Linked DNA regions of Homo sapiens. The protein of the gene in region 1 purifies or fractionates together with the protein of each later gene. This does not show direct contact. Each region holds a gene or a part of one and is shown on either strand. Other genes may lie near its edges.

The links. Proteins that work in one complex are often made in the same cells at the same time.
Region 2: the proteins of CDX1 (region 1) and CABIN1 purify together in Homo sapiens (affinity purification with mass spectrometry; 2 studies listed by BioGRID and IntAct, with this or other methods). This does not show direct contact.

Annotation. Positions count from the first base shown.
Region 1 is NC_000005.10:150,175,990-150,183,777, reverse strand, and holds part of CDX1 (homeobox protein CDX-1), read right to left. Parts: intron 1,011-7,788; coding exon 865-1,010; intron 305-864; coding exon 98-304; 3' UTR 1-97. UniProt on the Homo sapiens protein: Plays a role in transcriptional regulation. Involved in activated KRAS-mediated transcriptional activation of PRKD1 in colorectal cancer (CRC) cells. Binds to the PRKD1 promoter in colorectal cancer (CRC) cells.
Region 2 is NC_000022.11:24,055,911-24,063,303, reverse strand, and holds part of CABIN1 (calcineurin-binding protein cabin-1), read right to left. Parts: intron 7,113-7,393; coding exon 6,944-7,112; intron 4,078-6,943; coding exon 3,941-4,077; intron 3,381-3,940; coding exon 3,163-3,380; intron 1,358-3,162; coding exon 1,279-1,357; intron 346-1,278; coding exon 158-345; intron 1-157. UniProt on the Homo sapiens protein: May be required for replication-independent chromatin assembly. May serve as a negative regulator of T-cell receptor (TCR) signaling via inhibition of calcineurin. Inhibition of activated calcineurin is dependent on both PKC and calcium signals.

The DNA of each region.
Region 1 (7,788 bases):
CAGGGCTGAGACTCGGACCAGACCTCCTGGGCCCACAGGAGCCACACTCCCAGCACCCGAGTCCCCAGGTCCCCCGGCGCACAGGCTGGGCATGGGGCTATGGCAGAAACTCCTCTTTCACAGGCATTGGAGAGGAGGTGGCCAGGAGGCTGGTGTTGCTGGGACACAGGCCCCCCAGGGATGGCCCGGCTGGGGTGGCCGTGATGTCGTGGGCCATCGGCGGCTGTGGGGGCTGTTGCTGCTGCTGTTTCTTCTTGTTCACTTTGCGCTCCTTTGCCCGCCGGTTTTGGAACCAGATCTTCACCTGTGGGGTTGGAGGACAGAGATGGAGTGGGCAGCAGGGAGAGAGTGAAAGAGAGAGTGCAAGAAGGAGAGACGAGGACAGTGAGCCCCTATTTCTCCATGTGGCTTTGTGGCTTATCTCCTCTCCAGCCTCCCAGACCACATGGACCCTGAATTCATTCTCCCCCTCTAGACATTGCACCCCTACCCTGGAGATGCCCTTCTTTGTAACCTTCCCCCTCTCCATCTTCCCAGGCCACACTTCTTCCAGGAAGCCTTCCTTGTTATCCCTGTGACTGCTCCCCTAATGTAAATAGCACGTGCACCTCCTACAGCACTAATAATAGCCTGCTGTAGCCTGTGGCTAATCAGATCCCCTTACCCCTGCCTTTGGGGGCAAGGATACTGGGTTTTGTTAAGGGAGGGTGCTGGTAGCACCTCAGTTTCTGCTGTGCTGTGTGACAATGGCCTGGAGACTCAACCTCTCTGTTTTCCTTCTACTGAGCTCTGTACTCTGCCTGGCAGCCTGGAGACCAGAGTCCTCGCACTGCTCCTATGGCTGAGATAGGAAGACAGACACACCTGCCGTTCAGTGAGCCCCAGATTGGCAGCCAGCTCTGATTTCCGCCGGATTGTGATGTAACGGCTGTAATGAAACTCCTTCTCCAGCTCCAGGCGTTGGTGGTCGGTGTAGACCACGCGGTACTTGTCCTTGGTCCGAGTCTTACCTGAGAAGCAGAAGGAGCCGGGAAGGAAGGTGAGTTGAGAGGAGGAGGCTACAAAAAAGGCCCAGGCAGGACCCCCAGGAGGAAGACAATCCAGGCTCCCTGAAGTAGGACCCTGAGGTGGGGAGAGACATACACTCCAGGTTCAAGGGAAACAGTCATTTCCCAGACTCAGACCCACAGACTCACAGTCTGGGAGGCAAGTACTCCTCCCATGCCCATCAGGGAGGCAGTGAGGTAGGCAAAACAACCAGCTCAGGGTTACACAGCAGGCTGCTGACGGAGCTGCAGCTTCAGCCCAGGTCTCCTGACCCAGAGCCCTATTCTGAAGGCCAGCTCCAACAACTTTAAACCAGCAGCTTCCAGATGTGGCTGCACAGCAGCCATTCTCCAGGAGCTTGTGAAGAACACAGGTTCTGGGCATCCCTGACCAGTTAGTCAGAAAGCCTGGGGGTGGAATCTGCATTTTTAACAAACTCTCCACTCTGTGGTCAGATATCAGATAGGTTTGAATGCTGGAGACACGGAGGGGATATCGGGCAGGCAAGGGTGATCAAGACTAATGAGATGGCAGCTGCTCCTTCCTCCTGTGCAAGAGAAGAGAGAAGGGAAGAGCCACCACAGGTAGAGGTGGAAGCAGAAAGAATCTGGAACTGTCCCAGGTGTGGGCTCCCTAGTTCTTGCCGAATGCCTGGGGATGGCCTCAACATCAGACAGGGAGGACTGGGGCTGCTGCTGGACCCCTAGGACCTGCCAGTTACCTCAAAGGCTCTGGCTCACGATACCAAGCCCTGAGCTGGGCCTGCACCAGAGGCCGGAGGCTGGTCTGCCCAAGCCGTCCACACATCCCCCTGTGTCCAGGCACCGGGCAGGAGAGATGCAGCTCATCCCACAGATCCTCACTGAGCTCCTGCTGTGAGCCAAGCTCTGGGCTACAGCACTGAGCAAAATAAAACCCCTGCCCTCGTGATGCTTAGCTTCTAGGGGAGGGAGATGATGAAAAGAAAAATAAACATAAAATATTTGATACACTAGTTGATAAGTGTTTCAGAAGAAAAGGAGGCAGGGAAGGAGGACTGGGAATTTAGGGAGGAGGTGGTCTGTGATTTTAAATAGAATGGGCCGTGAAGGCCTTGCTGAAAAGGGGAATTTCAGCAAAGGTGTAAAGGAGGTACAGGAAAGAGTCATGTAGGGCCAGGCGCGGTGGCTCACACCTGTAATCCCAGCACTTTATGGGAGGCTGAGGGAGGTGGATCACGTGAGGTCAGGGGTTCAAGACCAGCCTGGCCAACATGGTGAAACCTCATCTCTACTAAAAAATACAAAAATTAGCCGGGCGTGGTGGCATACATCTGTAATCCCAGCTACCCAGGAGGCTGAGGCGGGAAAACAGGAGAATTGCTTGAACCTGGGAGGTGGAGGTTGTGGTGAGCCAGGATTACACCACTGCATTCTAGCCTGGGTGATCGAGTGAGACTCCGTCTCAAGAAAAATAAACAAAAAAAAGAGTCATGCAGACATCTGGGGAGAGGCTTCTAGGCAGAGGGAACAGCAAGTGCAAAGGCCCCGAGGTGGGGCATGCCTGCTGTCTGCCTGCTGTCTGACAGTGAGGAGCTGTGAGGAAGCTGGTGGAGCTGAGGTGCAGTGAGAAGGGGGACGGGACAGGAGACAAGGGGAGGGACTCTGGGTTTTCCTCTGTCTGGGACAGGAGCCATTGCAGGATTCTGAGCAGAGGAGACATGAAGTCTGATGTAGGTTTTAATATTACTCTGGCTACTGCATGGAGAACAGATTTGCAAGAGGAAGGGGAAGTGCAGGGAGAGCTGCCGTAACCCAGGAGAGAGGGCGGTGCCTTGGCTTCTTTATGAGGCTCAGCCTGGGGCCCAGAGCTGGATTTGAGGACCAGCTGAGGTTAATGTCAGGACTTTCTTTGGGACTGGGATCAGAGGTCTGTCTGGAGAGAATACTAAGAGTCATGCTTGGCCTGGGCTTGTGTGGGGCCTGGCTAAGCACCAGTTTCCTTTATAAGAAGCTGAGCACGTGGCTATAAATAGGAGGCGCACGCAAGCACTTCCAGACCCGCACACGCTCCCACCAGGGCATGGCGGGTCTCTGAAAGACCATCAACCCCTCCCGCCTCTCGCAAGTGTCCCCACCACAGCCCAGCCTTCATCTTCTTGGGTTTCAGCCCTGGCCCTGCCTGTCCCTCAGCACCCCTGTACTAACCACTCACCCGCCCCCATTCTGACGCCTGTCCCCCTCCACCAAGCCCACGCAGCTTGGCAGGACAGCCACTGGGCTCTCCGTGAGCCAAATGGCTTTGTGGAGAATGGGAGGCAGCAGATGTTCCTGGGCAGCTTTTCCCTGGGTTTCCTGCCAGAGCAGAGGAACCACACTGGACGCTTCCATGTCCACTGACCTCAGTCCGCTGCCCAGCATAGCACGGGATAGCCTCGGACTTCAGCCAGGTTTGGCCCCAGGAAAGGGATAAGGGAGTGGCTGCCCAGGCCTTGGCTCCAGATTGGGCCCCTCCTTGGCCTAGAAAATGCAACGCCGGCTCAAAAACAGTTCTGCCTAATGCCACCAGCACTGGAGGCCAACATGGCTCTGAATCCACAGACCCATTGGGTTCACTGGGCTAAAGCTGGAAGCGGTTGTGAGAGTTTAGTCTCCTCGCACTTTACTGAGGAAGAGATCGGGGTTCACAATGGTTGCATGGCAGCTGGAGGGCCAAAGAAGAGGCCTGGTGAGCCCTTCCAGTCCTACCTCCCTGTGTAGTCAGGGTCACTGAGGCCCAGGCAGGCACGGGCCTGCCCAAGGCCATGCCCCATGCCCTAGAGCTCTTGCTGCCTCTCCAGGGTACAATTCCGCATGCTGCCAAATTTAGGGCCCACTGAGCCTGCCATGGAGCCCCCAAAGTGTTGGTAACAGAAGCTTAAATAGCAGACCACCCCTCCATTGCTACTTCTGGGAAAGGAGAGCCCAGACCATGGTGAGGGAAGGCTACTGAGAGCCCCAGGCTGGGGGCCCTTAAAATGCCCAGAGGACTCACAGCCACCCCCAGGAGGACAGGCCTGAGGTAGGGCATGAGGCTCCCTGCCCACCCAGACCTTCGCCTAGGGATGACAGGCAGTGGTCCTGAAGGTGCTTTTTCCTTAGAGTCCTAGCACCCACTCCTGCCTCTTCTGACGAGCAAGCCCAGACCCATGAGAGCCATTTCATAGGTGGGGGGAAATGGGCTCAGAAAGGGCACTTGCAGAGGGCTGTCCTGACTGGTCATGGTATGAACCAGGACTCAGGTTTCTGACCTCAGGCCCAGCTCTTCCACAAGGGAGGGGGTCAGGAGTGAGACCAGATGGAGATAGGGTTTAGCTGCACAATTACTCCTCTCTCTCCTGGCAAGGCTGCCAGTGAAGACCTGGCCCACAGGCCTTGTCACTCCTCTCTGGGCTCTGGAGAGGAGCTGGTGGGCTCAGGAACCCATTGGCCAACTTCTCTCTGGTGGAGCTGCTTGAAACACACAATTTTCGTGCAAGAAAATGGCTCTGCCAAAGAACAAAATGTTTGCTATCACACCGTGTGGCTCAGAAACCAGGGAATCCCATATGCTGTTCCAGGAGTGAGAACTGAAACATCCTCCTTAGCGCCCAACTTGGCGATATCTAGCCTCATTTAACAGGCACATACCCTTTGACCGAAGAATCCCACTTCCAGTAACTGATCCGACCAAGAGCTGCCCAAAGCTCCATCTGTTTCTGATAACACAAGACAAAAAACAATGTACACGTGTACAAGCAGGGAGCTGGTGAGAGAAGGGATGGTGCATTCGTGGAGAGGAGCATTATGCAGTCATTAAAAAGAAATTTCAAAACCCCATATATCCCAGTATGGAACAATTTCTAAGACGTGTGAAAAAAAAAGCAAGACAGAATAGTGTAAATAGTATGTTACCATTTGTGTATAAAAATGGGGGAGACACACACATACCCAAACATAGTTCTTTCTGAAAGAATATACAAGAAGCCAGTAATAGGGGCTGCCTCTGGAGAGGGCACTGGAGGTTGGAAAGCCACAGGTAGGAGGGAGACTTTGGGTTTTTTAAATCTTTATCAAGTGTATGTGTTAATTTGTATTTTTAATGACAGCCCCAGGAGCCCTGGGCTCCAGTCCCAGCTCTGGGCTGGAACTCCCAACTGCCCCAAGATACCTCTGGAGCCTGGGAAGGAGCGGGCAGGGAGGTGTGTGAGAGCAGTGGGGTGGGGAGAGGGCTGGGGATGAATTATTTACAGGCCCCTGGGACGCTGGAGCTAAGGGGGAAGTCCAGGCTCCTATAACAGGTGTCTGCTGAGGGGCGGGCCACTCCCAGCCACCTAATAAGTAATCCTCTGGGCCAGATGCCAGTGTGAATGGGTGGGAGGGAGAATGGGGAGCCCCCTCAGCTCTTCAGGGGTGAGCACAGAGGGGAAGAGCCTTGGGTAACTCACCGAAATGGGAGGCTTTCTCTCTCCAGTTTTGGGATGCGCAGAATGTCCCATCCATGTGGATTAGGCCACCATGAGAGGTAGCAAACTCCCGTCCCCTAATGCATGCACGGTACAGGCCAATGGCTCCCAGTGCCTGACCAGCAGCCTTGGAACTGCCTGGGAAGCTTTTTCACAGTGCAGATTCTGGCCCCAGAAATTCAAATTTAGTGGCGCTAGAATGGGTCTCAAAATTTGGTACTTGAATAGTTTTCCAGGTGACCCTAACGTGTGGTTGGTTGGGCTTTAGCTCCATAATTACTCCTCTCTGTCCTGGCAAGGCTGCCGGTGAAGACCTGGCCCACAGACCTTGTCACCCTTCTCTGGGCTCTGGAGAGGGGCTGTGGAGCCCAACAGAGGTACACTCTGTGACTCCAGAGGTGTCTCGGGGCAGTCAGGAGTTCCAGCCCAGAGCTCCTGGATGTCATTAAAACTAAACCTCTGGGGTTGTGGAGTGCAGCTGCTCACTGGCTGGGTAACCTAGGACAGTCTCCCCACCTCTCTGAGCCTCATTTTCTGTATTTGTAAAATGGGGAAAATTAATATTCTAATAATAGCCAACACATCCATGTGCTGGGCCCTTTGTATACATCTCTCAATGACCCGTGGAGTTGGGCAACTATCACTCTATTTTACAGATGAGAAAACTCAGGGTCAGAGAGGACCACGCATCAGGCAGGTGGGATTCAAAACCAGGTCTATCTGGCCTCAGAAACAGCAGTAGAACCTATCAATCAAATGGTACAAGGTTTCTTGTAGTTCTCTCCAACCCTGCGGCATACAGGGGCTCACTTGAGATAGATGGACAATGTCTAGCATGCAGGAGGTGCATGGGGAAGGGCAGATCTTACTCATTTCCAACAGTTGTGGGATGACCATCTGGCAGGAATGCCAGGGAATGGATCTGTGCAATGGGCGGTCTGCTAGAAATGACCGTTTACTTATAAGGTCCCTTCCAACTTGGAAACGTGAACCTCCCAATGTTTGTTGATTCTCTGATTGTGTTTGTTATTGTAGCTGAAAGAATTCTAAGACCAATTTCAGTCTGAGAGTCTAGACACTGGGCCTGCCCGGGGGGAGGATGGGGACAGGAGCCACAGTGGCCTGCAGTGGGGGCTCCCCATCCAGCCTGGGCCAGGCAAGGACAGAGTGTGGCCTCTGCTCCAGCACAATCAAATGGCCCCTAGGTCAGCACTTCCTTTGCCCTCTTCCTGCCGGGTGTGTGGCCCTGGTGGATGACCAGCTTTGGCCCCCCAAGGCCTGGACCACAAATCCAGCTCTGAAAACCTTTGTGACTCCTCCCTGGGTGGTCCAGCCCCAGCTGGCTGTGCTTCAAGATCCTAACCCCAACACACACATGCAAACAGGCATGCACGTCTGTACACACAAGGGCTTGCTGAAAATGCAGATTCCCAGGCCCCACTCCAGATCTACCACATCCTAATTTCTCTGTCATCTTTAACGAGGCCCCTGTGGATTCTAAACCACCAGCTAAAGTCAGTGGGTCCTGGTCCCAGTTCCATGCCATCTGTGTGGCCTAGAATTAGTTCCTCCTCTCCTCTGGGCATTGGTTTAGCCTGTGCACCAGTCCAAGTGCCCTCGAGACTCTGCAGTTTTGAGCCCTTTGTGCAGCTTTGAGCCTTCCCTTAAAGATCAGACCTCCTGGCCCCCCCTGCCACCTTGCTGCCTGCCACCCCAGGCAACCCCCACAGGGAGCACCTGCCCCACACGCCCTCCAGCCAAGTCCCTCAGAGACCCACACTGCATGCAGCAACAGGCGATGGGGAGCTCACCCGTGTCTGTGATGCCAGCCTAGGAATGACAAACGAAGGGCATAGGGCTTTTGGCAGGAGGGGGCTCAGGGGAGGTGGGAATAGGGTAGCCATAGAATGCTACTGCAAAGAGCCCCCTTTTCCAAGATAAGGAAGCAAGTCCAGAGAGCTTATAGGTCACTTGCTGTGGATGACTGCAAGGCCAATAGGCAAAGGAAAGGGTGGGAAAGAGGGGCTCAGGAGGACTGATCTCACCCCAGATAATACTTGTAGGAGCGCTGCAAGGGTGGCAGGCTGTGGGCCAGCTCAGAGGTGGTGGCACTTCTGGTGAGGGGCCTAAATTGTAGCAGCGTCACACTCTACTGAGGTTTGGGAAAGGCTGGGTGTTTGGGGCGAGCTTCTAGACCTTGCCTGGTGGCAGAGACCTGGACTGTGGTCCAGCCTGGTCATCTTAGTTGAAGGACTTGACAAGTGACTGAATTTCCCTGG
Region 2 (7,393 bases), on another chromosome or scaffold:
CCAAGCCCAGTGCCCGGGCAGGTGCTATGCATGTACACATGCATGCACACACACACACACACACACATACACACACACACCCTCAACATGGTCAATTTTCTGCCCACCCTGCTGGGTGTCAGGGCATGCTCCCCAAGCAGCTGACCATGGAACTAACCTGCAGCGCCAGGAAGCGAGCCTTCAGCCAGTAAACACGGACCACAAACTCCAGCCAACCATCCTCGAACAGGTCGCGCTGGGACGAGGCAAATGACAGCTGTAGGAGGTCACCCAGGCAGTGGGTCCCTGGGAAGTCAGGTCCAAATCTGCCATTCACCATACCAGCAGGGCAGTTCCGAGGAGACACTAAAAACCATCAGGCCAACGAGTCAACTTCATGTGTAGCATTCTAATGCCCTTCTGCTTCTCAGAAGTTGCACTTGGCCCTAACCACACCCACCCTATCTCCAGGGGCACCCTAAGCCCCTCAGAGCCCTACAGCTCCCTGAGTGGCAGGCATCAGAGAGGTTGGACCAGTTAAGACAAAGATATGCAGAGACCCTGCCCCCTGCCGAGAGTCAGGGGCAAGGGCAAGGGGAAGCAATTTTACAGACAGCATTGAGTATATCTACATTCCACCAGGTGGTAGTTTAAAAGTCAGAATGAAGCTGGGCCCAGTGGCTCATGCCTGTAATCCCAGCACTTTGGGAGGCTGAGGTGGGCGGATTACTAGAGGTCAGGAATTCAAGACCAGCCTGGCTAACATGGTGAAACCCCATCTCTGCCAAAAAATACAAAAATTAGCCAGGCATGGTGGCACACGCCTGTAGTCCCAGCTCCTCGGGAGGCTGATATGGGAGAATCACTTGAGCCTGGGAGGCAGAGGTTGCAGTGAGCCAAGATCATGCCACTGCACTCCAGCCTGGGTGACAGAGCAAGACGCTGTCTTACCAAAAAAAAAAAAAAAAAAAAAAAAAATCCGTATCACCAGAAAAATTACTGAAGCTACATAATACATAAAGCACTGCATTGAACAGTCACACCAAAACTGAGATCCCACTTCCTTCAATCTTGTGTAACAGCAAAGCAGGGAGGTGGCTCCCTCTGGGGGCTCAGCTACTGCTAACCACTTCTTGAGTATCCAGGAGATTTCCCTGGGACCCTGACAAGCCAACCCAAAAAATGTGCCTACTGTAGATATAAGGCTAAATTCCATGACTCAGTCTCCCGCCTCAGCTTTCTCCCAGCTGCTGGGGGTTCAGATATTAGCCTGGCCACAGAACACATAATGCCTCCTACCTGCAGAGCTTCTGCCTTTGGTCAGCAGCCACTGGTCCAGCTGGAGTTCCATGCAGGAGAGAGACATCAGCATCATGTCCTGCAGGACAGACACAGGAAGGTCAAGAACAGTATCACAAAGCCTCTTCACAGTGTGGGGGGTAGGGGGCTGTGGAAGGAAACAAAACTATACTTTTTGATAAAAATATAATTCTTTCTATCCACTTGCCATTTCATAAGTGATAATCAGTGGCTACTCGCCAGAACATAAAAAGAGCCACATGGATGTATGTTGGGACAAGACTTGGGAGAGGCCAGGAGACCGGTCTTCAGAGTTCTTGTCCTGTTGAAGAGGCAGCCCTGTCACCTGCCAAGTGCTGGGACGGACACTGCATCCAAATTATAGAACTCAACCCTTAAAAGTTCTGGGCAGCTGGTATACCATTCCCAGGGCACTTGAGGAAGCTGAGGCTCAGTGATGAGAAGGCACTTGCCCATTGGGCACAGCTGGAAGGTGATCATCAGCCTGCTTTGCCTGGGGATCAAAGCCCTGGTTCCTCCTGCTGTTTCACAACTGCCCCAGGGGAGCATGGCCTGGTGGGCAGAAGCTGCCAGGAGGTTGCCCTGAGGTAACTCAGTGGAGGGTGCCCACCAAGGGATGACTGACCTACAAGCTCTTCTACCTCCTGTGCTCTCAAGTCAGAAAGACCACCAGGCATCCCTGAATGTTCCTGGTGCTCCTGCTTCAGCATTCAGTGTCCCACCTCCAACAGGAGTAAGGGGCCAGAGCACCTTGTGTTCCCTTGAGCTCCAGGAGGCACCAAGTGGAGGAGGCTGGGGTGTGGAATGCAGCAGGAAGACAAGGCTCAGTGAGGCTCAGCCCCCTACTGCTGGTGGCCCCCAAAGCTTCTCTAAGCACGCTATTTAGCTTCTGCTGTTTTATCATCTGTTAAAAATAGTCATAGGCCAGGCATGGTGGCTCCCGCCTGTCATCCCAGTGCTTTGGGATGCCAAGGCATCAGGATCACTTGAGCCCAGGAGTTCCAGACCAGTCTGGGCAACATGGCAACATGGCAAGACCACATCCTAACATCGTAACAAAAGGAGACCCCCATCTCTACAAAACAAAACAAATTTTTTTTTTTTGAGACAAGAGTCTCGCCTTGTCGCCTAGGCTGGAGTGCGGTGGCGCCATCTCGGCTCACTGCAAGCTCCGCCTCCCGGGTTCACACCATTCTCCTGCCTCAGCCTCCTGAGTAGCTGGGACTATAACCGGGTGTGGTGGTGTACGGCTGTGGTTCCAGCTACTTTGAAGGCTGAGGTGGGAGGACTACCCGAGCCCAGGAGGTTGAAGCTGCAGTGAGCCGTGACTGCACCACTGCACTCCAGCCTAGGCAACAGAGCAAGACCCTGTCTCAAACAACAACAACAAAAGCCTCAGTCACAGTCCTTGCCAACTCAAACAAACCAAATGTTTCCCTTTCCTCCAGCTTCTCCTGGCAAGGCTTCCTGTGACTCAGTAAACAACCCGAGAAGCCCTCCCCATGACTCTCATTCCCTCACACATCCCATGTCTAGTTCAACCTATCAGCTCTGCAACCACAAACCAGCACCCCACTATTACCACTGGATCTCAGCCACTGCTCCCCTGGCATGGCAGCAGCCTCCTGATAGCCCCGTGAGCCCACTCTCACCCCTAAGTGTATCCTCCACTCAGCCATCAGGGAGCTTTCTAGGCACAAACTAGGTTCAGTGACTTCCTGCTTCGACACCCACAAAAAAACCAGGTTCCAGGCCCACAAGTAGATGCAGCCAAACACAACAGCAGCCCCACACCCATGCAAGATCCCTGTCCCCATGCCCTGGTCCCAGTTCAATACCAGCCCTTGAGAGGCTCCCCCTAACCTTGATGTGCTTGTTGCTGCAGTCCCTCAGCAGCGGGTTGGGCAGGCTGGTGCTGTGCCTCCTCCAGCTGTGGTAGACGCTGAGCACGACCTCCGCCAAGCCTGGAGGCCACCTTACCAAGAACTTGTGGCCCATGGCTTTCAGGTAGCGCATCATCAGCTCCAGGATGCCCCCGTTGGTTAGGTTCTCCAGCAGGAACTCATGCACGTCCTGCTTTTCTGCCCGGGGAGCAAGAACAACCTGACTTGAATAAAGAGTACCTTCCATGCCAGGGTCTCCTATTTACTTTGGGACAGTAAAGACTGTTCCCTCCCTCTACCATCTGATCCAGGTGGACATGATACCACGTTGTGGTGCTGAGATCAGGCTACTGGGTTCAATGCCTGGCTCCAACCCTCAGCAGCTATGATTGAGCCTCTCTGAATCTCCGTATCTAAGGTGGACATCAAAAGGGCAGACCTCCAAGTGCTGCCATGTGCACTAATCTCACTCAACAGTTATACACTGATACACACTCAACAGGTGTGCTTATATAGATTCAATTTGCAAAGCGAAGTCTCTGAATTTGGCCATAAGAAAGCATAGCAAGTATGAGCCTGGACATTTCAGAAGACCTCCAAGCTGACCACAGGGCTTAGGTCCAAGACTAATCCAGGCAGACTCTTGGCCACACTAAAAAACACCCCAGAACCATTCTCCCAGAACAAAACATAAGCAGGTTATAGGATAGTGGGAAGAAGAATTCCCAAAGTGAATGGTCACACTGCTCGATTCCTACCAGATTCCATGAATGTGGCTGAGTCAAATGACAGCCTTTGAGGCCCAATGCTTGGGAAGCTTTCCAGTTTGGCTTCTGACTGGACTTCATAGTTATTAAAGGAATCATCTTCCTCCTCAGGGTCCAGCTTTCTTAACCTGCATGTAACATGCCAAAATCACAAAGTCACAACACACGTTCTGACACAAGCATCTGAACTCTTCCTGTTAGAGAAACTAAATCTGAGTCAGGAAGAAGGCAGCTAAAATAAGTGGGTGGTGGGGTCCAGAACCCAGGCCTCCAGGAGGCTCTGCCTCTCTCCAGGGCCTCATGAGCCAGCATTTGGTCTGTATCCTGTCTCGGTCATTCATCTCATCAACAGATGATTACCGAGCACCAGCTATGTGCCAGGCACTGTGCTAGGCACCAAATACAGCAGCCCTAAATGTGGCAGATCCTGCCTGCAGTAAGCTTACCCTCTAGAGAGACACAGCCAATAAGCAGGTACACAAACTAACCCAAATAAGGACCACCTCACAACAGAGTGCTTGAGACTATGGGTCAAAAGGGCCCTGCTTTAGAGAGCAGGGTCAGAGAAAGCCTTTGAGAGGGGATAATGTTCATGCTGACACACTGGAGGAGGAGAAGGGCTTGCAATACAAAGATGCAGGACAAGAACAGGTACAAAGGCACAGGCCAGAAGAGCACCTGGTGTGTTCTAGGACCTCATGGGAGCCCAACAACTAAGGTGGAAAGCGGATAGATAGGTGGGAGTTTGGGGGATACATCAAGCTCATCTGAACTTGGTCCTTCCGTGGCTCCTCACAAAGCTGTGGGTGGGCCCAGTCTCGGGACTGGGGATGCCTCTCCTGGCAGGCACTCCTCCCAAGGACCCATTTCAGCCAACCTTGTGGTGTTCCCTCAACCCAGAACCCCTGCAGCATAAACACTCAGGGCACTTGTGAATGTCTTCATTCACGTATTGCACACACTCCCAGGGTGACTCCATCAGGCGAGCTACCATGTTGCTCTTGCCTTGACCATTCAAAGAAGCAGAAACTAAGTTAAGTGTGGTTGCTCAAGATTGTAATCTCAACATTTTGGGAGGTGGAGGCAGAAGGACGGCTTGAGGCCAGGAGTTCAAGATCAGCCTGGGCAATATAGCAAGACCTCATCTCTACAAAAAACAAGAAATAAAATTAGCTGGGCATAGTGGTGTGCACCTGTGGTCCTGGGTATTCAGGAGGATCCCTTGAGTCCAGGAGTTCAAGGCCACAGTGAGCTATGATTGTGCCACTGTACTCCAGCCTAGGCAACAGGGCAAGACCCCATCTCTAACAAAAATAAACAACAAAGGAGCAGACACTAAACCACAAACGAAACCAACAACTAAAATGAAGATTAAAAAGAAAGTCGAAACCATCCAGGTAAATGGGACTAGGGAACAAGACCTTGGAGTAAAAAGCAGGGCTAAGGGGAATATAGGGTCACTCAAATCTCTTGGCACCATCAACCAAAGAACAATCCTGCAGTTCTTCCAAAGAGAAACTTTCTTCTGGTATTACCCCTTAAGAAAAATTCATCAGAAGGCACTGCAGCCCCACTTTGGTTCTGCGTCAAGTACTGAGAACAATCATTATTTCTAAGCATTTCACCTTCACCTCAGAAAGACAACAAATTAAGAAAATTAGGAATCTTGCTGTAAAATAAATTTACAAACCACCTAAAGCTTCTGGCTTCTCCTTCACCACTTTGATGTTGTTACCACTGAAATAAACTGTCATGGGAAAGAACTAGATAGTTTAACTCCTGTTTAAAGATGGCATATCGAACACATATGGTTAGCTCCCAAACTCCATTCCAGTAACAACGAAGGAGTAAAAAAGGTATAAACTCACAAAGACAGAAGATAGGCGAGGATGCCCCAGCAGACAAAAAATGTACCAGCCAACTGTTAGAAGGCAGATGGCCCAGTGCAAATGAAGAATGGTGTCTGCCGAGAGAGGCCTCTCCACTCAGCTAAGGGAGGAGAAAGGGGAGTATTAAGAAACCAACCCACTGGCACCATAAACTCCAGGAAGGCTCAGAAATTGAGGATCCTAAAGCCTCTGAAGGAGGTGAGCAGGCAAGGACAAAAAGCAGAAGGACTGGCCGGGCGCCGTGGCTCATGCCTATAATCCCAGCACTTTGGGAGGTTGAGGCGGGCAGATTACGAGGTCAGGAGATCAAGACCATCCTGGCTAACACAGTGAAACCCCGTCTCTACCAAAAATACAAAAAATTAGCCAGGCGCGGTGGCAGGCACCTGTAGTCCCAGCTATGCGTGAGGCTGAGGCAGGAGAATGGCATGAACCCGGGAGGTGGAGCTTGCAGTAAGCCCAGATAGCACCACTGCACTCCGGCCTGGGCGAAAGATCAAGACTCCGTCTCAAAAAAAAAAAGGCAGAAGGACTGGTGAAAACCTAAGTAAGAAGCACTGGGGACCAAGTCCCTCCCAGCTCTGGGGAGCCTGGTTCCTGCTTGTCCCCTAGGCTCCTGAGAAGCACTAAGAATGAGTGAAACCCAGGAATACTTCACAAGCTCCTCCTCTACCTTCTCAGAATGCAAGGGAATCCTGCTGAGCCTGGAGCAAATCAAGTAGACACGGACTCCCTGAAAGCAGGAGGGAAGCTCCCTTCCATGGGGTTTTCAGGGCATCTGCACCCAAGGCACAGCACCCCTCTGCCTCCCAGCAACAAATAGATGTCTTGTAAATACACAGGGACATGAGTATGTTGCTTCTAGCTCTCAAAAGATGAACAAGTCACAGCTCCTGACTTCAGGAATTTCAGAGGTGGGAAGAGGCGAGAAAAATCCAAGATCCTACTCCAGTGAGATTTGTGCTTCAGACATCTGCACAGATGTTATGGGAACACAGAGGAGGAGACCAGAGAAGAGGGTGGCAATGGAATGAGAAATGTTACTGATGGTGTATGCTGGAGCTTTGTGGGTTTGTTTCTGACAATCAGAAAAAATACACAGTACCTGGACGGCAAGAACTTCATCAGAAGCTCCTGGAAGTCTACTTTCTCTTCTTTTTTGCACTTGGTGTTTCGGACACGGGCAGACCGCCGCTTTGCTGTTTCTCCACTCTCTTCTGAAATCTTCTTCCGTTTTACCCCTTTCTTGGATTTATCTCCCCCAGAAATATCACCTTCACAAAGAATGCAAATTAAAATCTTACACGGTGGCAGGGATGAAAAAAATGCACCACACAGACACATCAATCTCCCTCTTTTATAAATCTACTAGCATTAAACTCTTTGACATTCAAAAAATCTTCCATCTCTTCTTCAACAACAAAGAATCCTGAGTAAAATTAATTTGAAACCCCTTAACTCTCACACCTTTCTTGACTTCACAGGACCCACAAGCCAGATTTCAAGATTACTTTCCACAGCTACAAAGCAAGCAACACCCTTACCCTCCCATCCC